Linked DNA regions of Homo sapiens. The protein of the gene in region 2 interacts with the protein of the main gene of each other region in a biochemical or structural test. Each region holds a gene or a part of one and is shown on either strand. Other genes may lie near its edges.

Region 1 (14,914 bases), on a different chromosome or scaffold from region 2:
ATAATATTCTCCCTTCCCTTCAACCCTGGGTAGGCTTCTATATGTAAATTCTAGATATCACATATAAGTTGGCTCATACGATATTCTTTCGGGTCTGGCTTATTTCACTTAGGTTCTCAAAGGTCATCCATGTTGTAGCATGCATAAAAACTTCATTTTTTTAGTGACTAATATTCCCTTTATATATCCCATTCTGTCTATTCATTGGTTGATGGAAACTGCACTGTTTCTACCTTTTGGCTATTGGGAATCATGCCGCTATGAACATTGTTGCACAAGGAGCTGAGATCAATTTTTCAGTTCTTTGGGGCATATATTTAGAGGCAGAATTACTGGGTCATATGGTAACTCTATATTTAACTTTTTGAGGAATCTGAAACTTTTCCACAGCAGCTATACCATTTTACATTCCCACCAGCAATGCATGAGAGTTCCAGTTTCCCCACATCCTCACCAACACTTGTGATTTTCCAGCTTTTTAAAATTATAGCCATCTTAATGGGTGTGAAGTGGCATCTCATTGTGGTTTGGATTTGTATCTCTCTGATGACTAGCATCTTTTCGTGTGCCTATTGGCCATGTATATATCTTCTCTGGAGAAATATCTATTCCAGTATTTAATTCATTTTTAAATTAGATTATTGTCTTTTTGATATTGAGTTGTAGGAGTTATTTGTATAATCTGGATATTAAATCCTTATCAGATATGATTTGCAAGTATTTTCTCCCATTCTGTGGGTTGTCTTTTCACTTTCTTGATAGTGTCCTTTGATGCAGGAGTTTTAAATTTTGAGGATGTCCAATCTATGTATATTTTTTTGTTTCCTATGCTCTTGATGTCATTTTTAAGAACCATAAATACTTTCCCCTATGTTTTCTAAGAGCTTTGCAGATTTAGCTCCCTTTAAGTTTTTGATCCATTCAGAGTTAATTTTTGTATATGGTATAAGGTGAATGTCCCACTTCATTCTTCTGTATGTGGATATCCAGTTGTCTCAGCACCATTTGTCAAAGACACTGCCCTTTCCCTCATTGAATGGACTTGGCACCCTTGTCAAAAATCAATTGACCAAAAATATGAGGGTTTTTTTTTTTTCTGGGCCCTTATATTCTATTGGTCTGTATGTCTGTCCGTATACCAGTACCATACTGTTTTGATTCCCATAGCTTTGTAAAAAGTTTTCAAATGGGAAGTGTGAGTCCTCCAATTTTGTTTTCCTTTTTTTTTTTTTTTTTTTTTTTGAGACAGAGTCTCACTCTATCACCCATGGAGCGCAGTAGTGCAATCTTGGCTCACTGCAACCTCCGCCTCCCAGGTTCAAGCAATTCTCCTGCCTCAGGGAATATAGGCATGCACCACCATGCCTGGCTAATTTTTGCGTTTTTAGTAGGGAAGGGGCTTCACCATGTTTGCCAGGTTGGTCTCAAACTCCCAACCTCAGGTGATCTGCCCACCTCAGCTTCCCAAAGTGCTGGGATTGCAGGCATGAGCCATTGCACCTGGCCAATTTTGTTATTTTTCAGGATTGCTTTGGCTAGTCAAGATCCCTTGAAGTTTGATATGAATTTTAGGATTTTTTTAGATTTCTGCAAAAAACGTCATTGGGATTTTGATAGGGATTGCACTGAATCTGTAGATTGCTTATGTAGTATTGTCATCTTAAGTCTTCTAGTACATGAACATGGGGTGTCTTTCCATTTGTTTAGGTCTTGACTTTTTCAGAAGTGTTGCACCTTCTTGGCTAGATTTATTCCTAAGTATTTTATTCTTTTTGATGTTATTGTAAATGGAATTGTTTTTCTTTCTGATTATTCATTACTAGTGAATAGAAATACAACTGATTTTTATGTGTTTTTTTTTATTATGTACTTCGCTGAATTCATTAGCTCTAGCAATATTTGTGTGTGTGTGTGTGTGTGTGTGTGGATTCTTTCAGTTTTTCTACATGTAAGATATGTTGTCTGCAAGAGGATCATTTTAAATTGGCTGCCTCTTATCTCTTTTCTTGTATAATTGCCCTGGCTAGAACTATACTGAATAGAAGTGGTAAGAACAGGCATCCTTATCTTATTCTTGATCTTAGAGGAAAAACTTTCTGAGTGTGATATTTGTGATGTTAAATGTGGGGTTTTTACATATGGTCTTCATCATGGAGGGATTTATCTTTTTATCATTAAAAAAGTTGGATTTTGGCAAATGCTTTTCTCCATCGATTGAGATGATGTGGGTTTTTTCCTCTTCATTCTGTTAATGTGGTATATTACATTGATTGATTTTTATGTTGAACTAACCTTGCTTTCTGAAGGTAAATCTTGCTTGGTCATGGTGTATAATCCTTTTAACCTTTTACTGAATTCAGTTTGCTAGTATTTTCTTGAGGGCTTTTACATCTGTATTTATAAGGGATGAATATAGTTTTGTTTTCTTACAGGGTCTTTATCTGGCTTTGATATTAGGGTTATACTGGCCTCATAGAATGAGTTAAAGTGTGCCTTCCTCTTTGATTTTTAGGAAGAGTTTGAGAACTGGTGTTAATTCTTCTTTAAATGTTTGATAGTCTTCACCAGTGAAGCCCATCTTGGGCTTTCCTTTGTTGGGAAATATTTAATTACTAATTCAATATGCTTACTTGTTATAGGTCTATTCAAATTTTCTATTTCTTCTTAAATCAGTTTTGGTAGTTTGTGTGTTCCTGGGATTTTGTCCATTTCATCTAGGTTATCCAATTTGTTGGTGTTAAATTTTTCATAGTATTCTCTTATAATCCTTTTTATTTCTGTAAAATTGGCAGTAATGTCCTCACTTTCATTTCTGATTTGCTAATTTCTCATTTTAGTCTTCCCACACACCTGTAATCCCAGCTACTTGGGGGGCTGAGGCAGGAGAATCACTTGAACCTGGGAGGCGGAGATTGTGAGCAGAGATCACACCACTGCACTCCAGCCTGGGTGACAGAGCAAGACCCCATCTTAAAAAAAAAAAAAAAATTGTCAATTTTTTGAACCAACTTTGATTTCATTTGTTTTGGGTATTGATCTGTTCTCTATTTTTTCCATCTAATTTATGTTATTTCATTTCTTCTAGGTTTAGGTTTAGTTTGCTCTTTTTCTGATTCCTTAAGGTATACAGTTAGGTTATTGATTTGAGATTTTTTTTTTTAATGTAGACATTTACAGCTACAAACTTTTTAGCACTATGTTTATCCCATCCCATAAGCTTTGGTTTATTATATTTTTATTGCCTAATTCCCCCTGTGATTTCTTTAGCCCATTGGCTATTTGAGAACTTATTATTTTCCATATATTTGTGGATTTTGCAGCTTTCATTTATTGATTTATAGTTTCATTCCATCCTAATCAGAAAAAATATTTCATATGGCTTTAATATTTTTAAATTTATTCAGACTTGTTTGAATATTGGAGACTGTTCCATATGCATTGAGAAGAATGTGTATGCTGCTAAGTGGGGTGTTCCATATGTGTTTGTTAGGACTAATTGGTTTATAGTGTTGTTCATGGCCTCTATTTTCTTATTGATCTTCTATCTGGTTCTATCCATGATTAAAAATGGGGTATTGAAATGTCCAACCATTACTGTAGAACTATCCTCCCTTAAAGTCTGTCAATTCTCCCTTCAAATATTTTGGGGTTCTGTTGCTAGATGCAGATGTTTATTATATCTTCTTGATGAGTTGAACCTTTTATTAAAATATAATGTCCTTCTTTGTCTCTGGAAATGACTTAATTTCTCCTTCATTCTTGAAGGGTAGTTTTGCCAGATTTAGAATTCTTAGCAGACAAGATTTTTTCCTTTCAGGATTTGAGCTGTGTCATCCCACTGCCTCCTAGCCTCCATGGTTTCTGATGAAAAACAGCTGTTAATCTTATTTGAGGATACCTTATACAGTCAGCCCTCCATATCCACAGGTTCCATATCTGCAGATTCAGCCAACCACAGATTCAAAATTCAGTATTCACAGGATGCAGAACCTGTAGTTATGGAGGGACAACTTTTTCTATCTATAGGTTCTACAGGGCCGACAGCAGTACTTGCATATCCATGGATCTGGGTATCTGTGGGAATTCCTGGAACCAATCCCCCATGGATACTGAGGGATGACTGTATGTGACAAGTCACTTCTTTCTCACTGCCTTCAAGACTCCCTCTTTGTCTTAGGGTTTTGACAATTTAGTATAATGTGTTTCACTGTGAATCTCTTTGCCTTTATCCTGCTTGGAGTTCATTGAACTTTTTGGATGATTACATACATGTCTTTCATCAGATTTGGGAAGTTTCTGGCATTATTTCTTCAAATATTTTGTTGCCCCCTTCTTGCTCTTTTCCTTCTGGTACTCCTGTAATGTGTATGTTGGTATACTTGATGGTGTCCAATAGGTCTGTTAGGCTCTGTTCATTTTTACCTCATTATTTTTATTTTCTTCTCAGACTGGATCATTTCAATTGCTTTATCTTCAAATTCACTGATTTTCTTCTGCCTGCTCAAGTCTGCGGTTAAACTTCTCTAGTGAATTTTTCATTTCAGTTTTTGTACTTTTCCTAAAATTTCTGGCTTCAAATAGGAAGCAGGGAGGGGCTCTGTGCCTTTAAATTTTCCAGTTGATGCCACTAGTGGAAGCCATTGCATCCCAAGGAATGTCTAAACCAAGACAGGCATCTGCTGGGACCCACCAGATCAAAGGGCACAACCCCAAATTTTTGGAGGACAAGGTCCCACTGCCTACCCTGGCCAGCTAGCTACTCCAGGAATGTGAGCTGCTATCCCCATAGCTTCAGGGGAGCTGAAGAGAGGGGGATAGTAGCTGGGTCACACACACAGTTCCCTTAGCAAAGATCAGCAGCCTCTCCCTTTACCAATCAGTCTCCCGATTGTTATAAATGTCCAATCAAGTTCCAGAGTTATGAGATAGTTGACAATCACTGTTTCTACTTCAAGGTAGCTTCAGTGGAGGGACCAATCCCTAGGGCTTCCTACTCTGCCATTTTATGTGATGTACTCTTCTCCCATTCTACAGGTAAAGAAACTGAGGCATAAAAAATTCAGGAATTTGCCCAGGGTGGTGCCAGGATTAGAGCTCAGCTGTCTACCTAAAAAAAAAAACCCATGCCCTTGGCCACTTCACTATAGTGCCTCTCCATATGGTTTGCACCTGAGATGTATTTTATATTCTCCCTTAGACAATTTTTTAAAGAATGCTAGAATTGGGAGAGTGCTTACAGCCCTCTGATCTCCAAGAAGCCTAAGTCAGGGCTTCTCTCCCCACTAAATACCTCAAGGGTGAGGAGATCACATTCTCCTAGTCCTGAAGTTCTACCTAATTGTCGTAGAAATCTTTCCATGATATATGCCAACTCACTTTTGTGAATTCACTTAAACTGGCTATTTTTAGGGGTACTCAAACTTTACATGGTCTTATTCTTCCCCATAGGCACAACTACAAGAGCGGAATGACCCTCAGCAACTGCTATTAGATGCCAAGCACATGTTTCCTGTTTTGTTTCCATTTAATCCATCTTCTCTAACCATGGACTCAATCCACATCCCAGCGTGTCTCAATCTGGAATTCCTCAATGAAGTCTGAAGATGCATGTTTCCAGCATTAGTTTGATTCCCAATGTGAGCAAGAAGGAAGTATATACAGTAAAGTAAATTCAAGGATCTGTTAAATCTGGTAAAAGTAGATCAAATCAGAGATTGACAGCCTGTGGAGGGTGCTGAACTATACAGAATTAGACACAACTATGTCATTATTTTTTGTACCTACTGCTCAGAATAAAAACACTTGAAATATGGAAGATTTTAAGTTTGATTTCAGTCCAACACATATACATAATTTATAGACACCAAGCAGTCCCCATAGACATATAAAAGGTGTCAATTCTATAAAACGAAGCTGCCTAGTTTTGATCTTTGCATAGAACTAGAGAATGTCCAAATTAAAATACCAAATATATATAAGTCACATAAATTGCCTTCAAAGGGCTTTAACAAATAATGGTACTAATAACCATGATAATGGCATATACTGACATTTCCCAAAGTTTGCAAACCATAGGTGTGGTTGAGTTTGTGGTGAGATGTTTTAAGAACAAAAATATGGGGATGAGACTTCTGAGAAATATTCCCAAAATATTTTTTAATGGCTGATTATACACAGACAGTGGTGTAACTGACCTCCAGACCAGACATTTTGAGTACTGGTTTCTGAAGCAAAATTAGAAGTGCCAGTCCTCAGTGTGCTCAAACGCTTTTGTGTTATCTTGATTTAATGGAAGAGATTATTAAAATGCTGCTATCCCAAACTCCAAGTGAGAAAGATGGAAAAATATTTTGTTTCTGATGCTAGTCCATACACTTTCCAAGTCCCACAAAACTTTCACAAAAATGTATATAAGCTAAATATTAGAAACGGATAACAAACTTGTTTTATTTATAGATGTAAAAACCAAACAAGTCAATATGAAAGCTTTTAATCTCTTAATACCATTAAGCTTCCAGTAAGAGCATCACATAATGCTCTACTGTTCCAGAAACCAAATAGTAAAACAAACTAAAGTTCGCACATCAGATCATCTGAAAAACCTTCAAAAATAATCAGTTCAGGGATATTATACAAAAGTTTGGGTTTTTTTTTTTTAAGAGAATAAAATGGCTTAGGTCAACTTTCCCTTTTCAGGTTATTTTCAACGTTTTTCAAATTTAGCACACAAAAAATTGTAAATATCTCTCCCACAAAATAAGGATTTTAAAAAAGTAATTCAGTAATATAACAGGCTTAGATGTTTGCTGCTCTTAGAATTTTTTTTAACTTGTTTTTGGTTTCTTCAAAAGCAAGCATTCAATTGGAAACCCATATTCTTTCCACACTTTTTTTTACTGTCTTTTCTGTATTTCTTGATAGCAGTATGCTGTTCCCATAAGAAAAAAATGGTATTTGCAAATCATGGAAGAACAGCCTCTGTATTACATTGAGAAAATAAGATTTATCCATGAATTGGAAGTAGAACAGCCTGCCTTCACCCTCTTTTACTCAACCACCCAACTTAAAAGGCTCTTGGAAACACAGCACACTCCACGCTACCTTCTGCACTGTGCCCTTAGAGCACAGCTTCCTCAGTTGTTCTCTGCATCTCCTGGGGCTTAGGCCAGTCTTAGCCTGGGTTAAGGCTGCTGACATTGTGTTCCAATCAGTTGTCATGGGCATTATCCCCTCTACATCCACATTAAACATGCCGGCTTCTCTTGGGCATCGGCAGAGCTGTGCCTTTTTCTTTCAGTTACAGTTACATAATCACTGACGTCCATGACACTTACCCATGGATCCATGTGCTGACTTCATTTAGAAGGCCAATCTAAAACAACTGGGTTTGTGGCTACCTCTTTAAAGTTGTTTGTGAAGGATAATTTGTTTTTTAATGCACTTTAGTTTGAAAGTGAGTCTCTTATGTAAGGACCATCCTTAAAAGACCAAAAATGCCTTGTTAGAGTGTTAAGGAGTTTTGACATGCAGTGGTTCCACAAACACAGTGGCTTACTATCCTTATACACTGTCTTATACCATCATTCTCTCCATCTCTCTTGGTCACTACTCTCTGCTGTCACTGGTTAATCACTAGGTGCCAAGAGCTTACTGAATAAAAGCTTGGCAATTAGAATAAATGGGGAGGGAAGGACCTTATGAATAGTCCATTTAGCCTAAGAAATGGCAGATTTAGTTCTTCTCTTCCAAAAGATAAAGGTATATCCTGGAATTGTACTTAAAACTTACAGATGACTAACAAATATATACTTTATATGTAGTTAATATTTAGATCTGTCTTATTTAATACTTGGAGGCTAGAAGAAGCATCTTTAGGGGAACTATATAATCTTTTGTTAGCATTTTCTCTGCATTTTAAAAAATCATTTCAATTCAAACATTTATCAGTGTCATGAAATCAGTAATGACTCTTTAACAATTCAGGTTTGAACTCTGCATTAGATGTCTCTTTAATTTTTTAATATTTAAAATTTAGTTGACATTTTTTTCACCAGGTGCCTTTAGCGGTTACTAAGATAACTGACATCAGTTGTTTCTCTGAAATAAGTGTTGCTGTGGGAATAATTTTAATGTTCAAGGTGATATCATGGGGGAGTTTTGTCTTTTAAAACATTAGAAGCATTTTAAATATTAAGAATCAAATATTTATAGATCAAAACTTGTGTTTTAAGTATTATACGGGACCTGTTTACTTATAGTAAATGTGAATGTACACATGAGTTGTTGCTGAAGCTGACAAGCATATTACATACATGCATTTTCCCTGTGCCCTCATAGTTGCAGTTAGAGTTCCAGTACCTGTAGGCTCACCTGGGAGGCAGATTAGACCCAAAGGTAGATGTTTTTCCCCTTTCCATGAAGCATGTCAGTGGGAGTTGCTTCCTTTGATTTCCCTAGTACTAAATTTTAAGGCTTTTGTAAAAACAAAACAAAACTAGGAGCTTGGAACAGTTAAAAATCAACACTGCTACCATCAATTCATCAAATATTTACTTAGAGCTTTCATACATTAAGATTCCAGTAACCAATAAATTAGAATTCATTTCTTCTGCATAAAGTAAATTTTCATACACTTGACCTACTAAGACAGCAAGGGTGTCCTAAATTGAGGCATTTGTATAATGCCTGCATAACTAAATGGTCACTAAAATGGGACAGCATGGGGCAAGACCTTGTAGTTCTTCACAGAATATTTGTGGTCAGTTTCTCCAATTAATTTGCTGCATGAGCCAAATAACCATAATTCACTTTTTATACCCACTGGTGCCATAATTAGAGAATTAGAGGGTGTAGACAGAGGTTAATGCCAATGAGAAACACAGGACAGGGTTTTTTTTATTATAAAGGTCATTAGATACAAAAGATTGTTTTTCAAAAAATTTCTAATTCTAACAAAGGGGATCAATCAGAAATGAAACTAAGCTACTTTCTAAAGTGACACTGTATCAGAATAATCCAGATTTGAATATAACATTTTGCCACCAACTGACATTTAGATGAAGGACTGCCTCTCTGAAAGAGTTCAGATCATATTCAGGGGTGAATCCAACACCATGGAAGAAAGACTACTGATGAAAATATTTTCCCACTTTGCACAAATCTGTAAACTACACCTTTGTTTATAGAAAAATGCTTGTAATAGTCACTGTAATATTTAGCTGTGGATAAAAATTTGTGGAAATAAATACTTTTGAATAAAGAGGTGTGCCAAATCTAAATGAAATTTAAAACTCTGCAGCTACAGGTTGACAAAGTTTCTTTGTAATGCTCTCTTGAGAAGCTTCATTATGGGGCCTATATTCTAATACGTGTCAAGATCATTTAAACCAGAGGTCAGCATCTTACAGTCCAAAAGTTGGGGGCAGGGAGAAACTCTCAGATAACAAGGCTTATTGAGCAATTACTTTAAAGCTATGGAATTAAAGGCAGTTTTGGTGTAGGCAAAGACAAGTAGATCAACGAAACAGAATAGGGAGTGCAAGGATAGGCCCAATCCTATGTATAACATAGCATACGGTAGAGATGGCATGAAAAATCAGTGGGGAAATAGTCATAAGATCTGTATGGAGGAATTTGTAAAATATAAGTGAAAAACAATGACAACATTAAAATGGAGAAATAATTAGGTACAAGAATTCGAAGACTCCATACCACTAAAAGTTTGTCAGTTGTCCCCAAGTTGATCTATAGATTAAAAATCAAAATTTCAACTGTTTCTATGTGAAAACTGACAAGCTCATTATAAGATTTATATGGAAGAGCAAAGGCCCATGAATAAGGAAGACCCTCCTTGAGAAAGTGGGAAGCTTTCCTTAGCAGGCATTGAGACTTACAAAATTTCAGTAATTAAGATGTGTGAGGATGACAGACATGGAAATTTTTTTTTTTTTTTTGAAACAGAGTTTCGCTTTTGTTGCCCAGGCTGGAGTGCAATGGCACAATCTCAGCTCACCGCAACCTCCGCCTCCCAGGTTCAAGCAATTCTCCTGCCTCAGCCTCCCTAGTAGCTGGGATTATAGGTATGTGCCACCATGCCCAGCTAATTTTGTATTTTTAGTAGAGACAAGGTTTCTCCATGTCTGTCAGGCTGGTCTCAAACTCCCGACCTCAGGTAATCCACCCGCCTCGGCCTCCCAAAGTGCTGGGATTATAGGCGTGAGCCACCGCGCCCGGCCCTGGATGTGGAAAAATTGACCAGTGGAACAGAATAGCCCAGAAACTGAGCATCTATATGGAAATACTGATACATTTTTTCTTAACTGGGAGTACACATCAAAATCACCTGGAAATCTTTAAAAAAATTTACACCCAAATTTATGGAATAAGACACCTCCAGAGATGGTGCCCTTCCACACCCATTGTTAACCTGACCCACCTAAAAATATACAAGAAGACATCCCCAGGGATGGTGCCCTTAAGCACCCATCATTAGAGACCACTATTGAAATATTTCATGATCCAGAAAAATGGTCACAGTATAATTAGTCCTCAACGTCACTGATAAGTTCTAGGAAACCACGAGTATAAACAAAATGACGTAATGACACCAATTTTAACATAAGCTAGTTGATATAAACAGTTCCTTCGGCATATTTATGGTCATACAAACATCACCAAATTTTTTTTTTTTTGAGATGGAGTCTTGCTCTGTTGCTCAGGCTGGAGGGCAATGGCAAGATCTCAGCTCACTGCAACCTCTGCCTCCTGGGTTTAAGTGATTCTTCCTCCTCAGCCTCCCGAGTAACTGGGATTACAGGCGTCCGCCACCATGCCTGGCTAATTTTTTTGTATTTTTATAGAGATGGGGTTTCACTATGCTGTCCCGGCTGGTCTCAAACTCCTAGCCCCCAGTGATCTGCCTGCCTCGGCCTCCCAAAGTGCTGGGATTAGAGGTATGAGCCACCATGCCCGGCCAAAACATCAACAAACTTCTAAATAAAGACCAAAACACTTCTAGAATTAAACACTGAAATGAAAGCTATATATACATTTGAGAAAGATTAATAAAAACAAATGAGAAAGTTGCCCACTTATTCCATTTAAGAGTCACTGAGGGCCCACCTCTCCTGGCAGCTCAGGGTGCCAGGGAGGCACCAGGCCTGGACAGGAAACCATCCTGTCACTGGGTGTGCTCACAAACCCACACTCAGACTGGGATCACTTAGACACATCCATTCACCTCATGTACACAGCTTTAGGACATGGGAGGAAATGAGAATCCAAAGAAAACAGTCATGGGGATCTCACCAGTGGAACGTATCCATGTCTGTATGAATGAGGCTGCAGCCTCAATTCTTGCCACCTCAGAAGAAAGAATTTGAGGGCCGTACAGCAGAAGGAGAGACCAAGGCAAGTTTTAGAATAGGAGTGGAAAGGCAGGAAAGTACACTTGGAAGAGGGCCAAGTGGGTGACTTGAAAGAGTCAAGAGCGTGGCTTAACCTCTTGACTTGGGGTTTTATATGTTGGCCTACTTCTGCGGTCTTGTGTTACTTCTCTCAACTCCTGAGATCTTGTCAGGAAGTGGCTGATCACCAGTTTCATGTGTTTTCTATCGGGAGACTGCCTTTCTCTGATGCTGGCTGCGACCAATGACTACTTTAGAAAGACAGTTAACAACTGCCTTGACCATCACTGGATGGTCACAAGATGCTCCTGGTGTGTGTGTGGAGGGGGGAGCTCTCTCCTGCCCTGCTCATGCCTGACTAGGTACCCACTGTAACAGGGAGAACCTGCAAACTCCACACACACAGTGGCCCTGGCCAGGAAGCAATTCTTTTTTTCTCACCAACATTATGTCAAAATGACAATGAATGAAACAATGTTATGTAGGGACCTGCTGTATACTATGCAGTGAAAAGTTGACTTTTGAAACCACCTTCCAATCTAAAGATGGATTCACTTTTTGAGTGGCTGACCAAAGAATACCCTCACTTGAGGAAAGCCTTCAGCTCATTCTCAAAGAGGTTTAGTCCTAGCTTCAAAGCCTCAACAGGAAAACCACATTTGAAAAGAAGCAAATTTCATACAAGATACACTTAATAACAGTTCAGAAAGAGAAAAGCAGACTGACTTCCAGGAACTGATTTGAAACTCAGAGCTAGGCCTGGGTCATGCTAGAAGCTGGCCTGGTCCTCTGTGCTGGGCCGTGTTGTTCTTTTGCTATGAACAACCTTATAAAACACCAATATCAGATGTGGCCACTCTGACTACACTAAAGTGATATGAAACAAGACTGTAATTTTGCCCAGGCACAAAAACAAGATCACTGTGTAAACCATGTAACACCAAATATGCCCTGTCCCAGGTAATATGAGGGACTGTAGCTGCTTTCCCAGGTGCAGCTTGAGCCTAGCTCTAATCAGCCCTCCTTCAGGATAAGATGATACTGTGACGGTTAATATTAGTTGTCAACTTGATTGAAGGATGCCTAGATAGCTGGTAAAGTATTGTTTCTGAGTAGGTCTGTGAGGTTGTTGCCAGAGGAAATTAACATTTGAGTCGGTGGCCTGGGAGAGGAAGAGCCACCCTCAGTGTGGGTGGGCACCATGCAATTGGCTGCCAGCGCAGCTAGAACAAAGTGGGTGGAAGAAGGTGGGATAAGCTGGCTTGCTGAGTCTTCTGGCTTTCATCTTTCTCCTGTGCTGGATGCTTCCTTCCATTCCTCCTGCCCTTGGACATCAGACTCCAGGTTCTTCAGCCTTTGGACCCTTGGACTTACACCAATGGCTTGCCAGGAGCTCTCAGGCGCCCTTTGGCCACAGACTGAAGACTACACTGTTGGCTTCCCTACTTTTGAGGCTTTTGGACCCAGACTGAGCCATTCCTGGCTGAGCCTGCTGATGGCCTATTGTGCGACTTCACCTTGTGATCCTGTGAGTCAATTCTCCTTAATAAACTCCCTCCCTCCCTCACCTCCCTCCCTTCCTTTCTTTCTTTTGCTTTTTTTTTTTTTTTTTTTTGAGACGGGGTCACAGAGTCTCGCTCTGTCACCAGGCTAGAGTGCAGTGGCACCATCTTGGCTCACTGCAACCTCCGCCTCCTGGGTTCAAGTGATTCTCCTGCCTCAGCCTCCCAAGTAGCTGGGACTACAGATGCACGCCACCACGCCCAGCTAATTTTTGTATTTTTAGAAGAGACGGGGTTTCACCATGTTGGCCAGGCTGGTCTCGATCTCTTGACCTCGTGATCCACCCGCCTCGGCCTCACAAAGTGCTGGGATTACAGGTGTGAGCCACCAGGCCTGGACTTAAACTCCCTTCCATATATACATATGTTCTATTAGTTCTGTCCCTCTGGAGAACCCTGAATAGTACTGATACCCAAAGACTTGTCCCTACTTCCTGACAGTACCCAATCCAGAGTGAACCCGTACTTCCTTGGATCCTCCCCAAATCACCTAACCAAACCCCAAATCCTACCACCCTTTTACTGAGATGTGCTGCAGTTCCCAAAGGCACACCCATGATGTGCAATCTCCCTTCTTCCAAAGAACATTAAACCCAACTTGTTCAACTATAGGTGTGTTTCTGGAGGTTTCTGGCTGGAAGGCAACAACAGCATTGTCTCCTTCTACCAACATTAGTATTTTGCAGAGTAAACTTAGATCCAAGGAAGATTTGCCTAAGGTTATGCTACTAAATGAAAGTTGAGCCAAAGATATAGAAGCTGCAAATAACTTTCAGACAAGTAGAGAAAAAAGAAAAACAAATATCTATCTTAAGTTTGAGACAGTGCCTTAGGGTTACTGGGAACACATCAAGACTTAGGGTAAACTTAACATGAGGGAGTTTGGCGTATTGGTGTCTTTATTACTTCCTGTCTACATTCCCTTAGAATAGGTAGCTAGGCAGACTTGGGCAGGGCAGGAGAAAACCTCCCCCACCCCGCCCAGGAATGTCAAGCGACTATCAGGTGATGGTCAGGCAAGTTGTTAAACTATCTAAAATAATCATTCGTCTCAACTGGCGTCAGGGAAAGGCATTCTCCCAATAGATGGAAAATACTAGAATCTGGTGATCAGCAGCTTGTGGATAAGATTTTGGGAGAGTGGGCTCAAACATGCTCACTAAGAGGCAAAATGGTAGAGTTTAACTGGTATATGAGCTTCCTCTAGGAACAAGACTGGTAAGGGAGGAATGTCTCTAGTGAGTATGTGCACAACTTCAGTAAACACACTGCACATGCCACCCCTCCCAAGTGCCGGCAGGCCACTGAGCATGCCGACAGCCCACCCCAAGGGAAAAATCGGAAGAAGTAATGCAAGGCCTAGAACCGTACCAATGTATCAATCCCCAAATCAAGGGTCAGGTGGCACAGCTGAATCTCTCAAGTTGCCCACTTGGCCCTCTTCCAAGTGTACTTTACTTACTTTTATTCCTGCTCTAATACTTCTTAATAAACTCTCACTCCTGCTCAAAAACTTGCCTCGGTCTCTCACTCTGCCTTATGCTTCATTCCTTTGAGGAGGCAAGAAGTGAGTTGCTGCAGGCCAGTACGGATTTGCCACTGCGAACAATTTCATTCATCTGATGTTCTTGCTTGGCAACTTGAACTTTCTGAAGAGTTAGTATTTGTTTTAAGAATAAAACCACATTCAACATTTGCGTTCTAATTAACAAAAATTGAAGTATTTCCAAAGCAATTAGATTAACAGTGAGCACACACATAACGTTCCAAACTACTCAAGATCAGCAAATTCACTTATCTCACTCATTCAGATTCATATACTCATTTTTAAAAGTTGTCCTAGGCCCTACTGACTTCGTCAGCTTTCCCCAGTTTCCATTACTGAAACTTCTAAAGCCACTGCTGCTTAAGCCACCGTCAATTTTTAGTGTTATAGGAAAGCAGGAG
Region 2 (17,042 bases):
CCTTAATCAGCTATTTCATCGTTTACTTCTGTAAAATCCATAACCATATTTAAATTTATTCCTTAGCATATCTACACTTATATCTATATATGTAGATATAAATTTATATAGATATAGATTTAAATTTAGATATATAGATATAATTTAGATATACTAAGGAATAAGAAAAGCACCATTATATATATAACTGAAAACTCAAAGTTGGAAAATCCAATCTTTCTCATGAGTGATTATTTCTGACTATAAATCATCATATAGATCCCTTGGGTATACCTACAGAACCCATGAGGGTTACTGAATTCCAATAACAAGCATTCTCAAATAAAAACCACTTCTAAATAGCCATTTAATAAGGATAATTAACATCTATTAGGAAAGCCATTAATACTGAAGCTGGCGTTTTTTAAAGAATAGCACATGGGCTGCTGTTGGTCCTTTCCAGGTAGCCCATGAACGAATCCCTAGAAACATTATCACCTAAATTTCTGGCTTGAACTAACACCCACTGGCAATTCACTCTCGCCATGTCTCATCACAAGCCATGTTGTTTTCTAAGTTTTGGTGAATTTCTGGCTCACATAAGTGGAAGTAGACCAGGATAGAGAATAAGAGTCTTTTATCTTCTTAAGATAAAAAAGTTCAGTTCCAAAAATATATGCAACATTGCCTGGCTCTATAATTTAATTATACAAATAAAAATGTTTTTCAAATAAAATAAAATGACTTGAAAATATTCTAGCATTTAAAAGAAATATTTGATACCTTCAAGTACAAGATTTTCCCAAATAGTAGAACTTCCCCCATATTAAGCTTACCTTGAAGATGGCATTATATTTGAAGCCCTGAATTTTGCTGTAAATGGATTGGTTGACTCATAATCAAAATAGTCCTGGCGATTTTCACTAAATGCATTAGGTGATTTCAAGTCACAAGGGCTATCAGATCCCCCATTGTTAAGTTTATCAGATCTTCTGCTATCTTTTTTTCCAGTCACTCTTTCAAACAGGCTAACTTTCTCCCTTTTCTCTCTTTTATTTTCTTTTCTTATTTCAATTGGTTTTGAAAATAAATTCATGCTGCTGTCCCATGTTTCGCTGCTTTCTTCAAATGGATTTTTCTTCCTTGGCAGTGTTGCAAATTTTTGGGGTAATGAAGCAGTCACATTTGTAAATGGGTCATTTTGTCTTCCGAAACACAATTCACCTTCATCCACAATGCTGTCAGGTTGGTTCATTTTAGAAGTATCAAAGCTTAATGTTCTTCTGTGTGGAGATTTGAGACTTCCTACAAACAATTTTGTAGTTAGTACATAATCAGTGACACATTACATCACACTATTTGACACAGTCTGTGTGCATTCTGCTGCTTTTAGAATGAGAGCAATTAGCCACTTAAATGTATTAACCTTCAAAAAATCAAGGAAACAATCTTAAAATGCTAAGGTGTAGCAGTCTGAAGCATCGAGGCTGATAACAACTAGCATATTGCTAGACCATTAGTAATGTATTCAGCTCACAATCATATAAACTATGATGTCAAAACTAGAGGTTCTGGTTGGCATGATAATGTTAAAAATTCTCAGAGACTTTTTCATTAGCATTAAATTTACTTTCTTACTTCTGAACATAAAAGTTTTCTTCTAAGGACTTTATGATGAAATGGAACATTCATTTATGCTCAGGGTTTTGAGATAGCAGAAACAGCAGTAAAACAGGCAGCCAAGCCATAAAAGGAAACTGGCACTCATTTTATTATCATCTAATAATATAAATACAAATGCAGACAAGCTCTGCCTTCAAGGAACTTACCAATTTGAGGTATAGTAGGTACTCAATATTTGATGAATGACAAAATTTGGAAAATACTACAAAGCAACTGCTATTTTGATTTACTAAATTTAGAAATTAAACTTTAAAAACTAAAAGGGTAGTTCAGACCAATGAGTACACAAGAATGTGACACTTACCACTTTCTGGAACTGTTCCAAAGGAATCTAACTGGTGTCCGAGAAGATGTGTTTGACCTATGGTGCCAGCCTTCAGTTTCTCAGAAGACATATGGGACCCAGATAAATCAGACATTGAATGCGCTGACGAGAGTCGCTGAGGACCCAAGAGAAAAGGCTTTTTTGGTTTGGATTTCATCTGTATTTCACCACTTGAAAATTCACTATTGGCATCGGGCATGTGAGTACTTGGAATGATTGCAGAAGACGTATCAGAAAATGTTCCATCATTTTTTCTACCCTTCATCTTATCTTTTAACTTTGCAAAAGGAGATCTGGTTTTGTCCTTCATTGATAAGTCAAACATACTTGCGGTCATATTGTTCCTCATAAACTGAATATTGACCTTTATCTCACCCCTGTTTTTGATTCGTTTTCCTTGTTTGGATTCTAATCTAAACCACCTTAAAGAGAAGAAAAAAAAATTGGCTGTAACACATAATAGAGAGAGGATACTGAGTTCTGTTACATACAAATAGCCTTTTAGGTAAAGTAACTATACATCAAGGCAACCTAAGCTCTGAATAAGAATCTGTCAGCCACAGTATTTCGGGCTTTACTTATTATTTAGTTTAAAAAACTGATCATTGTCTCTGTGATGTAACATATACTGAAGGAATGAATAGGTCTTTGGCAAGTTTGAAAATGTTTTCAGATAATCTTTTCTTTTGTAATTTGAAAATCACTCATCATCAAAAATTCTTATCAATGCTAGAAGTTTTCCATATGGGATTAAGTGTTGCTCACGGCCTAAGGACATTTTTTTTTAACATTAAAAGACATTGAGGCAGAGATTTTGAAAGAATTCACCAATACAAATTATTTTTGAGCATTATAAAATGAATCTCATGACATTTTAATACAATAATAAATACCTGGCCCCATCCCAAAATATTACTTACGTAAAAGTAGCAAAAGAATTTTGTTAACATTGGAGATCATTGCATATAGCTTGCTAATCATTAAAACAGCATATGATGTCATTTAGATTGACATAAAATGAATCAAAGCCTACTCCTGAATAAAATATGCAAAAAATAAGTAAAATGCAAGAAGTGACAAAAAATAAATCTTGTGAAGTTTTCAAAAGGAAAAAAAAAAACCTAAAATGCTTCTTGTTTGAATCTATTTGCTTCATTTTACTATTGCTACTGTGACAATACCAAATAAAAATTATTTTGAAAATGAAGCCAAATCTTACGTTTTAGTCCCTTCAATGTATGGCACTATCTGTATTTAAATGATATACAAGAAGCAATATTTTGGTTTTATAGTATTTTTATCCATGAGAAATTCTCCAGTTGGCCATGTCACAAGTGGTCATTCTATGGGAAAACAGCCAAAAAAAACTACAAAATCAAGCCTGAAAGAGTTTCTACAATGTTTTCACATAACTTAGCAATGAGGCATAATATCCATTCCTGCACACAGGTTATTATTTAAATATAGCTCTAATCGAGTGTAACAAATTTTCTTAGCTACAAAGGAACTCTGATCTAATTTTACATTAGTTCTTTCTCTCATTGTTACCAACTGGATATGCCAAGAGAAGATTACATTTACTGTATATCAAGTTGAAATACTGGCACATGATATAAATACCAGCTACATCTTTGCACGTAACATGGAAGAAAAATATTTTCTTGATTAACTAAATTGGAGCTATTCAATCAATTCAGATATAGTTGCATCAAAACTAGCCATTTCTTAGAATATCAATATTTTAAAATACTATTAGCCTGAGACCTTAAACTGAGAAAATCCCTTATATAAGGCAAATGGTAAAATCTGAAGAAACAGGGGCTAGAAATAAGAAATGACAGCGATTTCTGTGAAATAGACAACCTTAAATAACATACAATTGAGCACTCAAAAAGCCTGGAAATGAAGCAGATTATATACCCAGTTAACTCAAAGTTTTGGAAAACAGAGCTATTTTCAATAGGGAGAGAAACACATCTGACGAACAGTAGCTCAGAAATACTCTGTAGTACCTCAGGCTTTATAGAATGTAGGTGAATATACTTTGCAAAAAATGTACCAAAAATTTGCAAACAAAAACGAGCACGTATGTAACAAATCAAAGCAAATATGAGTAAAAAAAAATTAATTACCCCCAAAATGGAAGGGGGTGGGGGTAGTGGAAATTCACAGACTTTTAGAGATAAGACCAATAAATCATCTACTTTAACATCTTTATTTCATAGATGAGGAAATTGAGGCACAAGGAATGATATGTAACTTCCCAATGTCAGATTAAAGTCAATAAAGAAAAAAATCTAAAGTTGATGAATAACATCTGCAGGAAAATAGAAGCTCTTTCTTATTTGATGAACCACATATGTTAATAAGGTTAACCACATGGCTGGCACATACTGCAGGACACTGTATTTAATAAGGAGACATGAGAGCTGAAGAGAAAGACAATGCAAATTTTCTACTGCTAGAGTATAAGCTCCTGGAAGGCAGTCTGCCTTGCATTAAATGTTTATTCAATTTTTATTTCTAGAACTATATTCTTACAAGTAAGCTACAACTGTGTGTGTGTGTGTATGTGTTTACATTGTCTTGTTTTTTTAGTAGGAAACTGTAAAGACCTATGTAAACCTGAATAAAGCAAATCAGTATTTGACTACAAACTGTAAATACACTATAATGTCCATTCCCCACCCCCCAAAAAAAACTGCAAAGAACTTTTACAAATATACTCATTGAAAATGTAGCAATGACAAATAACTTTAGTTGCTTTGTTTTGAAAATGACATAATAGGGAAGTCTTAATGAGATCTTCAAGAATCATTTCAGAGATAGCATTTGTTTTTCCAGTCTTCAGAAAGATAAAACGAAGACACAGCATTTGGAGCTTACTGGATTAGCTGACTTTTTTTCACCTCTGGAGTACTGGATTTAAACTGTACATGGCCTCTGTTCAATTTTTAGTGGGCACAGGTCCATGTTCAAAAACCAGCACACATATGGGAACTATTCCCAAGCAATTGGTGCTGTGTGGTCAGAAATGGGACAAAATTGGCAGTAAGGGTGCCAGAGGCCAGGACACAGGTGCACCGCTGAGACACACACACGTCCTAAAATCTGCATATGTCTGAGTCACATCTAACTCTACAGACTCTGGTTGTTATTACTTTTCATGAGCATTAAAAAAAAAAGTCAACATCACCTACTTCTATTGTAAAAAATCAATGGATATTACACAACAGCATCAATGATTTTAACATTCTATTACTAAACATTGTATTATTTCTTTAAATCTCATGCCAGAACCAACCCAGACATCCTCTAAAGGAGGAGATACAGAAGTTCTCTTCCCAGGCCCACTCAAAGGGTTCTGGCTCAGACCCTTTTTCCCCATTCCTTAAGAGAGAAAAAAGACATATATTTTCAAGGTAAGAAAATAAGTAAAGTAATAATTTTAGTTGTCATACTTCTTTATCTATCATGACACAACTGGAAGACAAGCTGTAAATATATGTCTTCAGTGTCAAAATGTAAAAAGTGTCACACCCAGCAGTTTCATAGGACATCTAAGTTAGCTGGTAGTCCTCATCACTCGAAACAGTTTTCTAAAAAGCACTTGGGAATATGCTGAAAAAGTTTAGCAATGTGCAGAATATTAAATATCTTCCTTGAAATATACCGGCGGCTCAAGTCTGTCTCTTACTGGGCCACAGGTACAGCTGTGCTAGAAAAGGAAGCTATTAAATATATTAAAAAACTAGAAATATTACCAATAAAGATATCTCATCAAATACATGGTCCCCATTTATCCACAAATAAAATGTTAAGGGTTTAGCAATATATGAAAATCACTTTGAATGCAATAACATCACAAACCCTGTTGATAACATTTAAAAGCATTTTACCCCTAAAGTTCTAATCAATTTTATATAATAGCCAGTAGAGAATTTCTATAAGGAGAGACCATAATATTAGAGTATTGCTCACACCAAATGTATTGTAACTGTGATGTTGCCCAGGACTAGGAGTAAAACAAGAAGAAATTGTAAAAGGTTATTTCATCCTCAGACTCCTTGGGTTCACATTTGGTCCTACTTTCACTAGGAAAATTTATGTTTCAGAGAAGGCCTGAAATACATGATCCATGAATATTAAAGTACTATAAATGAAGTGAGGAATTTGAAGGTGCAATATACTTAATAGTTTACATTCAAAACACGTTAAATATTTACTAAGTGTCACCCAAAATTGGCAATTTGAAACAGATTATTTGGTAATTATCCATTTTTCACTTTCAATTTGATAAAGAATCCCTCGGAGGAAACTGAATGCCACTCTTTAGGTATCAAATAATTTTATTATTCAAATCACTGATATATATTAAACTTTACATTTAACTTTTTCTCTCCTTCTAAAATATTTTCATCTCAATTAAATGGTACCATTTTTCCTCCTGCATTCCTAGTATTTCTGATCTCTCTACACTTTTACTCCACATATATTAAATCTTAGGTTAAGACCTGATTTAAAATGAAACAAAAAAACTCCAATCAAGAGAAGCCTGAGAGTAGAAATGTACAGAAAAGAACAAGAGAGAGTCGTTTTAAAATGTAAAGAATTAACATAAACTTCAAGAAAAATATCATTGTAAGAAAGTTTTTTAAAGAGTAAATAAATTCAATTATAACTGAACAAAACACCAACACTATTTTGGAAATGGAAAGTCCTCTTAGAAGTTCAACCAGTATTTTTCTCTCACTAATTTCATTAATATAATGTCCTTTTAAGTTTATGGAAGGGGTGAGTATACTTAACTCTAAAAACATATTTTTTTTCAATTTAAGACACAATATCCTAGTGTTAATTTATATTATGATTTTTTAAATTAAAATGTATCTAACTCAAGCTCAAAAGTCATACTGAAAAGACCACTGAAGATGTTATCAAATCATTTCATCACAAAAATTTATCATTCTCTCCATCCTACAGCATTTAATATGGTCTAAACACAATAGCTTTGGAAAATCAATTCTGAATACAATAACTCTGATGTAATTGCAAATTCAAAGGAAAATGTAAGTGCATTCGAAGTTGAGGATGTCTGTACATACTTTTAAAACTTTTTTTTTTTCTAACAGGTATAGACTCCCATCAAGGCACACTGACCCTGAAAAATGGCTGAGCTAAAATAAAAGCTGTGTTTATAACGCTGAAACGAAATACTGAGTTCTAAATCTGGTGATTTATCTTTTGACAGCTACAAAGTGCGACACATCAACATTACATTGCCAGATTTAATTTCTCATCTTCCATTTCATTGATAATTGTAAGGTTTAAAATCCATAACAATTTATATGAAGTTCTAGTTGGTCAATACTGTGATCCAGTCCTCATACTGAAACAATGTTAACTTACTTAAAATCCACCACAAAATATTCAATTATTTGACAGATGTTTAACAGAAAGAATAAGGGATCATTAATGATTCCATTTAAAAAATATTTCATCACGAGTGCTACTTTTACTTCAGATTCATGCAAATATGGTGCTTAAAACTGGATCATATTTCAATCCAAAAACCAACGCCCGAAGTATACGGATAATTTCCAAGAACAGAAAAACCATAAATAAGATATAAACTCCCCCAAATTCAAAATAAATTACATAACTTACTCTGTTTTCCTTCTTTGTTTGTCCTCAAAGATGTCATTGAGATTGATTGCCACCTGCCCTAAAAATTTATCCAGACCCACCAGGGACCTGTGCATAACTATAAGGAAAAGAATGTATTTCTCTGGACTTCCCTGAATTAGCAATCCAGGTAGCTCGAAAGAGGCCTCCTCCTTCCAAACTGGCTCAAGGGTTTTCTCAGCTACAGAGGTGGAGTACTTTTCCTTGCCCAGCTGAATTATAGTGTATGTGTCATTGGTACCACTTTTGCCTTTTGGCTTCAGATCTTTGGCTTGGAGCACTGTGACCTGCACGTGGGTTGGAAACCACTTTTGGGCTTGCTCGGACAGCATCATCCTGTCCTGTTTCTCTGCCCCCGAGTTCCCTAGCACAGGCAGTGCCCCTCCCGGAGGGAGAGCCTAATTCCTTAATCACTGCATCCTAAGGACACTTAACGGAAACAGGCAGGCTCAGGGCTCCCCGACTTCCCTATGGCTGATGTCAAAACGCCTCGCGGGGGCAGCCCAGGGGCACGGCCGCTCCGGGGGTCCCCTTTCGTCTGGAGAAACACAGAGGCCCACCATCACCTGGCCGCGCCGTGCAGGCCTCTGCGCGGACCCCCGCCCCTGTCTCCACCTTCCCCAGGCCTGCGGGGCACGTGAGGCCTGGCCACACGGACCCGGGCGGAGGGCTGCGGGGGTGAAGGGAGCCCCCGCCCCAATTCTGCACCCCTGGCCTCCCGCCTGCCTCCTTGCGGCCGAGCAGCCTCCGCTGCCTCCGCGCCTCCCGCCCGCCCGGCGTTCGTCCGCAGGCTCGGCCCGGCTCCTCCTCCCGACCCCGGTAATACGAACCGCCGGCGGCTAACGCGGCCTCGCTCCCTCTCGCAAACCTCTCCCTCCTCCTCCTCCCCCTCGCCTCAGCTCCTCCTCTCGGGCGGGAGCGGGTAGCCAGGGGTGGAGTGGGGGAGGGCGGGGAACGCGGCCGCCCCGGCGCCGGCGGGACGTGGGGCGGGCAGCGGGCTGCAGGGCTGCGGGCGCTTGGTTCGGCCTGGCCCGGCCGGCGGCTCCTAACACCGGGCGGGCGGCTGCGGCGGCACTTCCGGGTTGGCCTTCTCCATGTTGGTCTCGGGAACGTGAAGGGGCGGGGCCTCGAGGTCAGGGGTCAGCACCTCCCTGGTTGCCGTGGCGACTGGAGGCGCGCGACGCGGGCGCAATGGCGGGGACCCGGGGCTTGATGCTGCTTGGGCCTGGCCCAGTGGCGGGTCCTAGGGACGTGGGTACCTGCAGAGGCCGGCAGGTGAGCCCTGGGGAGGGCTGGGGACCGCTCGTGAGAGGAGGTCATCAAAGACCCGGAGACGCCCCTAACTAGGGCGTCTTTGAGGGCAGGGGATCTGTGTTCGCTGTGTCCTGGATGCCCAGTGCCTGGCAGGAGCAGGTCCATAAATGGTGTTGGAACGAATCAGGCCTCTTCACTGACCGAAAGGAAACTTTTCTCCAATCTCCTATCCACCCTTCTCTTTTTGAAAAGTCCGTAAATTGACTGAAAATGACATCCCCCACCCAGACGAAGGGCGATAGGGAAGCAAATAGTTTCCACAGGGAGTAGAGATGTAGGGAGGCACTGGGCTGGCATCAGAAGACCTGGTTCCGGCCGCGCCTCTGCCGCTATCAGTGTGTGTGACCTTGGCCGAGTCATTTCACCTCCATGAGCCTCAGTGTTTTCACGAGTAAAAAAGCCAGTTCTACCTCATGTCTAAGACTCCATCACGACTCTATGGGCTCGACGTCAAAAGGACCCCCGTGGGGACTCACACTGTGGTGGACTGTGCAAATCATGTGGAGACCATGCCCCAAACACGGGTTTCGAGTTTCAGGGGATAATACATGTGCCTTTCCTAGCACAATGCGGCACATAAATCTCCTTTTGCCCCTCTATTTCTCAATTGGAAGAGACGCTTATGTACCACCCCATTGCTGTTAATTCTGTTCGTGTCTTACCTTCCCAAGGAAATTCTAAGTTTTGGGACTGCCTTGTCTATCATGCAGTCCCTTCATAGTGGCTAGCATGCAGCAGACAATTTACTGAATTACTTAATGCCTTTTTTCCCTTTACAAGACTAATTTTGAGAGTAAAACAATATGATACATGTAAATGCACGTTTTTTTAACTTAAATGGCCATAAACATGTAAAGTATCGTGTTTATTATTTTCAAGCAAGGTTTAAAACTTCTCATTCAAGGCAGAATTTTTCATCCCTGGGAGACAGTGTATGAAAAGGCCATGTGTGGAAAACAGAACAAAATCATCGTACTGCGAATATAGCATCTGGATCCCAGAGTGCACAGTTGTCAACTTTAAAGAAAAATATTCTTAGGGATTTTTAAACAGTACGTTGGAACAGTCAATGGTGGAATTTCACCAGGATCTCTAAGGAGAAATAATTTGACACCTGAAACTTACAAAAACCAAATAAACATCATGAAATCAAATTTAATTAAGTTTAGAGTTCTTATACATTTTAAAAGTCTTCATGTCTCTATTAAAGGTTGTAATTAAACAATAGAAAATTATAATAGTGGATGTGTATTTCTGAAGAGCTTAAATTGGTAAGCTTTATTAATGATTATAAACTTGTTTACAAATATAATTTCACTCATCTCTGAAATATAGCCATCTCTAGGGTAGAAGTTGGCAGCAGTAGTTCACAGCAACTCAATAACATACTCCAACACAACTCAGAGAATACTCTAAAGGCAAGAGCTGAACAATTGGAATTACTAACCTCTCTTTCTGTAGCACCTAAATTTCTTTTGAGTTTTCCCAACAGCTGGCTAGAGCCAAAATTGTTTAGTTTTACTGGTGAAATCAGAAATTATGACTTAAAATTTTTTAAGCCAGAATAAGAAAATAACATATTTTTGCCCCCGGGGAAAGCAAATAAACAAACAAACCAAATGAGCTAAATAGAATCTGGGATTGCATTATAATAAGGAAATGACTTCCTATAGAATGTTTTCCTTTTTTGATTATATTAAGAGAATAAAAATATGACAGTGGAGTCAAAGATATGGTTGGCTTATAGTGAAAAATAATGACAATTACATAAGATCTGGGATCAAAGTGCTTCTCCCAAAATGTTTATTGTTTTACAGTTTTAAAAATTCTTTTGACTAATTCTAAGATATACATGGACAACAATTTAAAAAGGAAAGGATTGCGTGTGTAAGGACAACATACCAGAATTGAAGAGAGTCACTTTTTAAAAAATTATCCTATGACTAATGATACATCCGGAAATGTATGGTACAATTCCAAAATCAAAGTCTTGGGAAAATAATATATTTTAGAAGGAAAATGCTGAACATTCTAATTTTAAACTGTTAACAATGCCTACAGCAATGAATAAGAATGCTTTGACCAGAAAGTTAAAATAGTCAATATTTATTCCCCATGAGTAGAGGATTTCACAGATGAAAATATTTACTACATGTTGCCCCTTTCAGTCCCATAAAGAATAAGTCCCATAAGGAGACCTATTCCAGACATTGGGGGAGATTTTCCCTTTGGACAAAGGCATCTCTAAAATCACATCTTGCAAATCTGTTGCAGAACAATTATAATGCTCTCATGTTTAAATAGCCCACTGGGTCAAGCGTGTTAATGCTCCCATGTACATTATGTAATGGATATTAATTATTTTCCAGATGGAGATTCAGAAACATAAGGACAACAAGAAACTTCCCCAAGGTATCATTATAGTCTTTAGACTTCAGACACACACCACACCTCAAATATATACACAACTGAAAGGTATGTAAAATTCATATATATGTACATATGACAAAGCCCCAGAGTTATATTGGAGATACATAGATAGATGATAGATAGATAGATAGATAGATAGATAGATAGATAGATAGATAGATCAATCTCCTTGTAATCGGTTGAAAAGTGAAAGAGTATTTGGCAAATTGACTTGAAATTATTATGGCAATGAACTGGCATTTGGGGATTTTTGGGGATTGTTTTGTTTTGTTTTCATCGCTGGACTGATCAATTTCTCTTCTGGGATTGGGCAGTGTGTGGATACATTTTGTGATGCCCAAGAAGTAACATGGTATGTAGTGTAAAGAGCTCTAGTCAGCAGCCTGGGTCTTAATCCCAGGGCTGCCTATTACTAGCTACATCTCTTTAGGGAAGTCATTTTTCTTCTTTGGGCTGTCTTGTAAAATGAGACTTTTATAGCAGCCACCAAAGGATCCTCTAACATTTAAAGATTCTACATAGTATATCCACAACGCAAAGAAGCAAATTGCATTATAATTATCTAACTGAATTTGGTCAATATACTAAAGCAGATTTCCTTTTTATGTAACATATTAATAAAGAATTCTCTAATTCAGGAGAAAAAAATTATTTTTTAAGATTTCCTGACAGCTCTGTCTCCCAAATGAAGGTAATTAATGATCACAGAAAGCAAGTGAATATAAGTTTTATTAATAGGCTCTGCATGAGGCAATTGACACCAACAGCTCAAGATTTGGAAGAAATTGCATGTATGTGCAAGTGGTTTTGAGCAGCCTTGAACTTTTTAATTGTAGTAATAAGTTTATAACTTCTATCTGTATTATTTGTAGCTTTTTTGAACTGTGAAAATATGCTGAGATTGGTAAGAATTTACGGAGCAAAATACACATTTGCATATAAGAAGGTTTTGTATGGGAACATCTTTCAATTTCCTTTTCATAGTATCATAGTATTCCATTGTATAATTTTTATTCCTACAACAAAATGCATATTAATGCATAGAACACGAATTGATTAACTTTAACTGGTATATGGCATTGGGTGAGATGAATAAGCCCCATTTGATCTTTTCTCCTTCCAAAGGACATTTAAGTTATTTCCACTTTTTCAATTATCATAAACAATGCTGCATAAACATCTATATATCTCCTATGCACATATGCAGGGATTTGTTTTGGTAATTGATGATGAAATTATTGGGAGTTTGTGAATGAGAGTATGGAACACCCATGGGCCTGAGTATTAGACTTGAATTCTAATCCTGGTTCTACAAACTAAGGAGTTATAGACCTGGCAAGCCATATTCTGTCTGTGCCTCAGGGACTCCTTCCAAATCCAGAATTCTCAAACTCCTTTTGTTATATTTACTGAGAAGCAGAGATTATTGCTATTGGAAGAAGATTTTGTGACTACTTTGGTATTTGTCTTCAAATTTCAATTGTCTCATCATCATGAGTCTTTCTGAAATCTTCCAGAACATTGCTGCTTCTACAGATTTAGGTGCGGGTTAATAAGGGCTGGAGAGTTTTGATTATTCCTGAAGGCAATGATTAGCAGAGTTATATAAACTTATCATATTTGTACTTTGTAAACATCTGCTAAATTTTTTATGTTCAATTAAAATCCAAGACAGGGATATTTTTTAAACAAAGAACGGGGTATTCAAATTATAATATTTCTAGGACGGCCTGGAATCCATAAAATTTCTGGGATAATATTTCTGGAAATACATTCATTTAGAGAGCATTAAACCGGTGGGCGGATGGCAAAAACATTTTGTGGTGGTGGTTTTTTCCCCCATGTGAGATCGACTGTTCTCTGCCTTTCTACTTATTTGATCTATGTTAAAAAAAGTAAAGGGCTTTTGTTGTGTTTTGTTTTATTTGTTATATTTTGTGTGTTTGATATAAAGCCTGGGGGAAAATGACATTTTGAAGGATAGATCCAACTCTTCTTGTTCCAGGGCCAGATTTTAAACATTTCTCCTAAAGCAACTTTCAACTGACCTGAACAATGTTTTAGTCCATCTGGATATCTGATCATAAAAGCACTTTGGGCTTAGAACTGTATGCTTATCTTTTACACATTCTGGGTTAGGTCACCTTCAGTGCACCTATAGGTTGTTGCCAGTATGTATTATAATCATTTTCTGGTTATTGGAATGATCATGGCTGATCTGTACAGCCAAAACTGAGCATAAGATGTTGCTTAGCAATGTATACCTAAAGGAGATACCTCATTTCAGGAATTATGTAGTATAGTGGACAGAAATCTTCTGGCTTAAAAAACTAATGTTGTATATGACCTTGAGCAACTTAAAGTCCTCTTCCAGAAAACAGTGAATTTTACATTTCTTCTCTCTCCAAACTTGGATCTTGGGTTATCCAGAATGGCTTCCCAATAGATTCAAATCAATGAGAAAATGCATTTTACTGTTTTTTTTATCAAGTTTATGCAAGATGAGAAGGTATATGGATTGTGCAATTTGTGCCCATAACTATGTTCTTTTAACACAGGAAAATTAAGGAAGTTTTTCAAAGAACCCTATTCCGAGTAAGAAGTGTGTTGCATGAATTTCTAAGGTAGGTTTTGCCCAGATCACCTTTATAATTTTGATGGTCTTCATTTTCCTTTCTGTCTACACTTGGACATTGGAAAAAAAAATTGAGCAAGCTAGCTTTGTAAAAGTGAAGTCTTCTGAATTAGGCACCTCAGGAATCAAGGGCTTGTAACGCTTTCTGAAACAAGATTTGCTGCAAAGTTCCTTGGATGGAGACACTGAACACTGTTGAGTATTCACCCTGTGGTAGATTTTTGTCCCCGGGCACTAATAACAGTGTGACCTTGGGCAAATTGTGTAAACCTTCCAAATTTAGGTTTCCTCATCTGCAAAGTGGGTTGTTGGGAAGATTAAATAGGGGAATCAGGTAAAAGTACAGAGAGGGCCTGACACATAGGAAGTGCTCAAAAGATGCTTGTTGCTGTTGGCTTGATGATGTGTCCCTTCTTTTCCAAGTACTTACTTTCCTCCTATCTGAAGGCAAAGGCTACACAGCAATTGGTCTGGACTGTTCCTCACCAAATAATTAAGGATCCTGAGCTGTGGCAGGTGCCCCTGTAACCCAGCAATGGAGACCCTGAGTTATTTTTGTTTCAAGCCAAACTCAATGTTATTGGATACTCTTTTTCTAAACAAAAGTAACATAGAATAAGCCCTTAATAGTATTTCAAACCTTCTTTTAAAATTCAATAATGACTTTCTAGGTATCATTTTAACAACTTTATAAAAATGAATCAGATCCTTGAGTTGAAGAAAAATAACTCCTTACATTATATACCTATACGTAGCAAAATTGGAAATTTATGTAGTAGATCATGTACCAGGTAGTATTTTAATATTCTAGATTTTCACTTCAGAGAGAATTATGATAAATTTAAAAACAAAAATATAACGTCCTGTGAATCTTACAACAAACATTCTGCTAACCAGTGTATCCATACTCTCCTTCCCTTTCCTCTCCCTCTCCTCCTTTCCCCTCCCCTTTTCCCCTTTCCCCTCCCTTCCCTTCCCCTTCCCCTTCCCCTTCTTCTCCTTCTCCTCCTTCTTCTCCTTCTCCTTCTCCTCCTTTTCCTTCCTTCCTTCCTTCCTTCCTTCCAACAGAAATGTATTTCTCACAAGTCTGGAGATGGGAAGTCAAAGACCAAAGTACCAGCAGAATGGTTGTCTAGTGAGGGCCCTCTTCCTCCTAGATGACAGTCTTTGCACTGTGTCCTCAAGGGTAGAAGGAATGAGCCAGCTCTCTGGGGTCTCTTTTATAAAAGTGCTAATCCCAGTCAAGAGGGCTCTGCCAGGGGCCCTGCCTCCCAATATTATCACCTTGGTGCTAACCAATATTTTCTAACTTCCATTTGCTACTCTAATGTTAACTCTGTTATCTCAATTTTAATAATAATAATAGCTGACATTTGCTGATGACATGCCTTACACTGCATTCATTAACATCTCAATCTCATTTAATTTGAAAGAGATAAAGCAACAGCCAATACACACATTACCACTTTTTTTCCTATCCTGTTACAAAGGAGATGAGGTTGTGGGAGAACTCTCTTTAGGCATTGTTCACATCAGGACACTTGAGAAACAGATCCTTCATATCCTTTGGACAACTCTTGTACTTCAGTTGGCTTTAAGCATTATCAGAGCATCCTTGACATGATGCCAGGTCCTAACACCGCTTCAGTGAAAGCTCAGAGACAAGCAAAAGATAATTGATCTATTTTGTGCCGCATGACATACTCGATGAGCAGCAACATATACTGTGGTGTTTGGCCTCCATAAACTGCAGAGAAATTGAAATATAGTAATAAACTTTATGCACGGACAAAGGGTGACCTAGGATATCACTGAACTCTTCTGCCTTCATAACCAAATGTCAAAATGCTAATAGTCTGTTCCTTGTGGAAAAATGTTGAGTTTTCATTCGGGAGATCAGGACTTACACACTAACTCAACCTACAGTAGACACTTGCTAGAGAATAAAACACAATAATGCACGTAGAATCGTTCTGTAAACTGTAAAGAATTTTACAAATATGAAATTTTATTATGGTTTTAGTCTTGTATCTATTAAATGTATACCTATTAGCATGCACACTTTTTTCTTCTAGCATCAAAGGTTGCTTAAAATAACAGTGGAACATTTAAAAGCAAGAGAATTCTAATTTACCATCATTCAAATTATGTTAAATCCAACTCAACTTTATAAGCTAAGGAACATGTGAAGGATAAATAAAAATTTGATAGTTAAGAAGATAAATATATGCAGATAAATTATGTGATGAGTCAAATTGATTATTACAGGACAATATACTGTATTAATAAAACAGACTAAATTTAAATGTATTGTGCAATGGCAAACCTAGTGCCTTCTTGGAAAAACATGCCTTAACAAGCTCATGTGGTTGCAAGGTTGATAATATCTTGATAATAACTTATGTTGTTCTTATTCCTAGTAATTGCTGGCCTCCTTATGACCTTCCGCCTAGTTTCAGGCAGTAGCTAGGAGAGCTAGACTAACTGCTCCAGAGAAGTGAGGCCAAGGCATGCAACAGAGTCACTTCTCCGCTTTTCCATTTCAAAGTAGACAATAGGGGAAGATATAACAAAAGCCAAAATTTATGCAGTAAAGAAAAAATTGGGGAAGAATGCAATTAATGAAAGACCTACACTATACAAGGATTTCACTGGACGAAGTGAAGAATAGGGAGCTTGTAAAGAAGATCAAGATAGTTGGACAGGTGGAATGTCTCCAAGACCTTTCCACTCGCCTCCCCACTTGTTGAGCATGGGAGCTGGGCAAATGGATGATAGACCATCCAGATAAATTTTGGCATCTAAAAGTAATTGTCACTTGCATCTTGTTTCTCAAGAAGGACCTTGAAAGTAAGCAAACTCCTAGAGCTCCCTAATCCCATGCACCACATTGGCTTGGAGCAGCAACAGTAGCAGTAGAATAGCAGAGCAGGGGGACTCAAGGCCAAGACGGTCTTGTTACAGGCAACTCCCTGAGCCTCCTTCCATCCG

Evidence for each region.
Region 1: the proteins of RAB11FIP2 (region 2) and MYO5B form a complex in vitro, tested with the Homo sapiens proteins (2 studies listed by BioGRID).

The regions. Positions count from the first base shown.
Region 1 is NC_000018.10:49,817,158-49,832,071, reverse strand, and holds the end of MYO5B (unconventional myosin-Vb), read left to right. Parts: intron 1-5,448; coding exon 5,449-5,601; 3' UTR 5,602-9,283; downstream 9,284-14,914. UniProt on the Homo sapiens protein: May be involved in vesicular trafficking via its association with the CART complex. The CART complex is necessary for efficient transferrin receptor recycling but not for EGFR degradation.
Region 2 is NC_000010.11:118,038,157-118,055,198, forward strand, and holds the start of RAB11FIP2 (rab11 family-interacting protein 2), read right to left. Parts: upstream 8,786-17,042; 5' UTR 8,008-8,785; coding exon 7,655-8,007; intron 2,410-7,654; coding exon 1,967-2,409; intron 1,285-1,966; coding exon 816-1,284; intron 1-815. UniProt on the Homo sapiens protein: A Rab11 effector binding preferentially phosphatidylinositol 3,4,5-trisphosphate (PtdInsP3) and phosphatidic acid (PA) and acting in the regulation of the transport of vesicles from the endosomal recycling compartment (ERC) to the plasma membrane.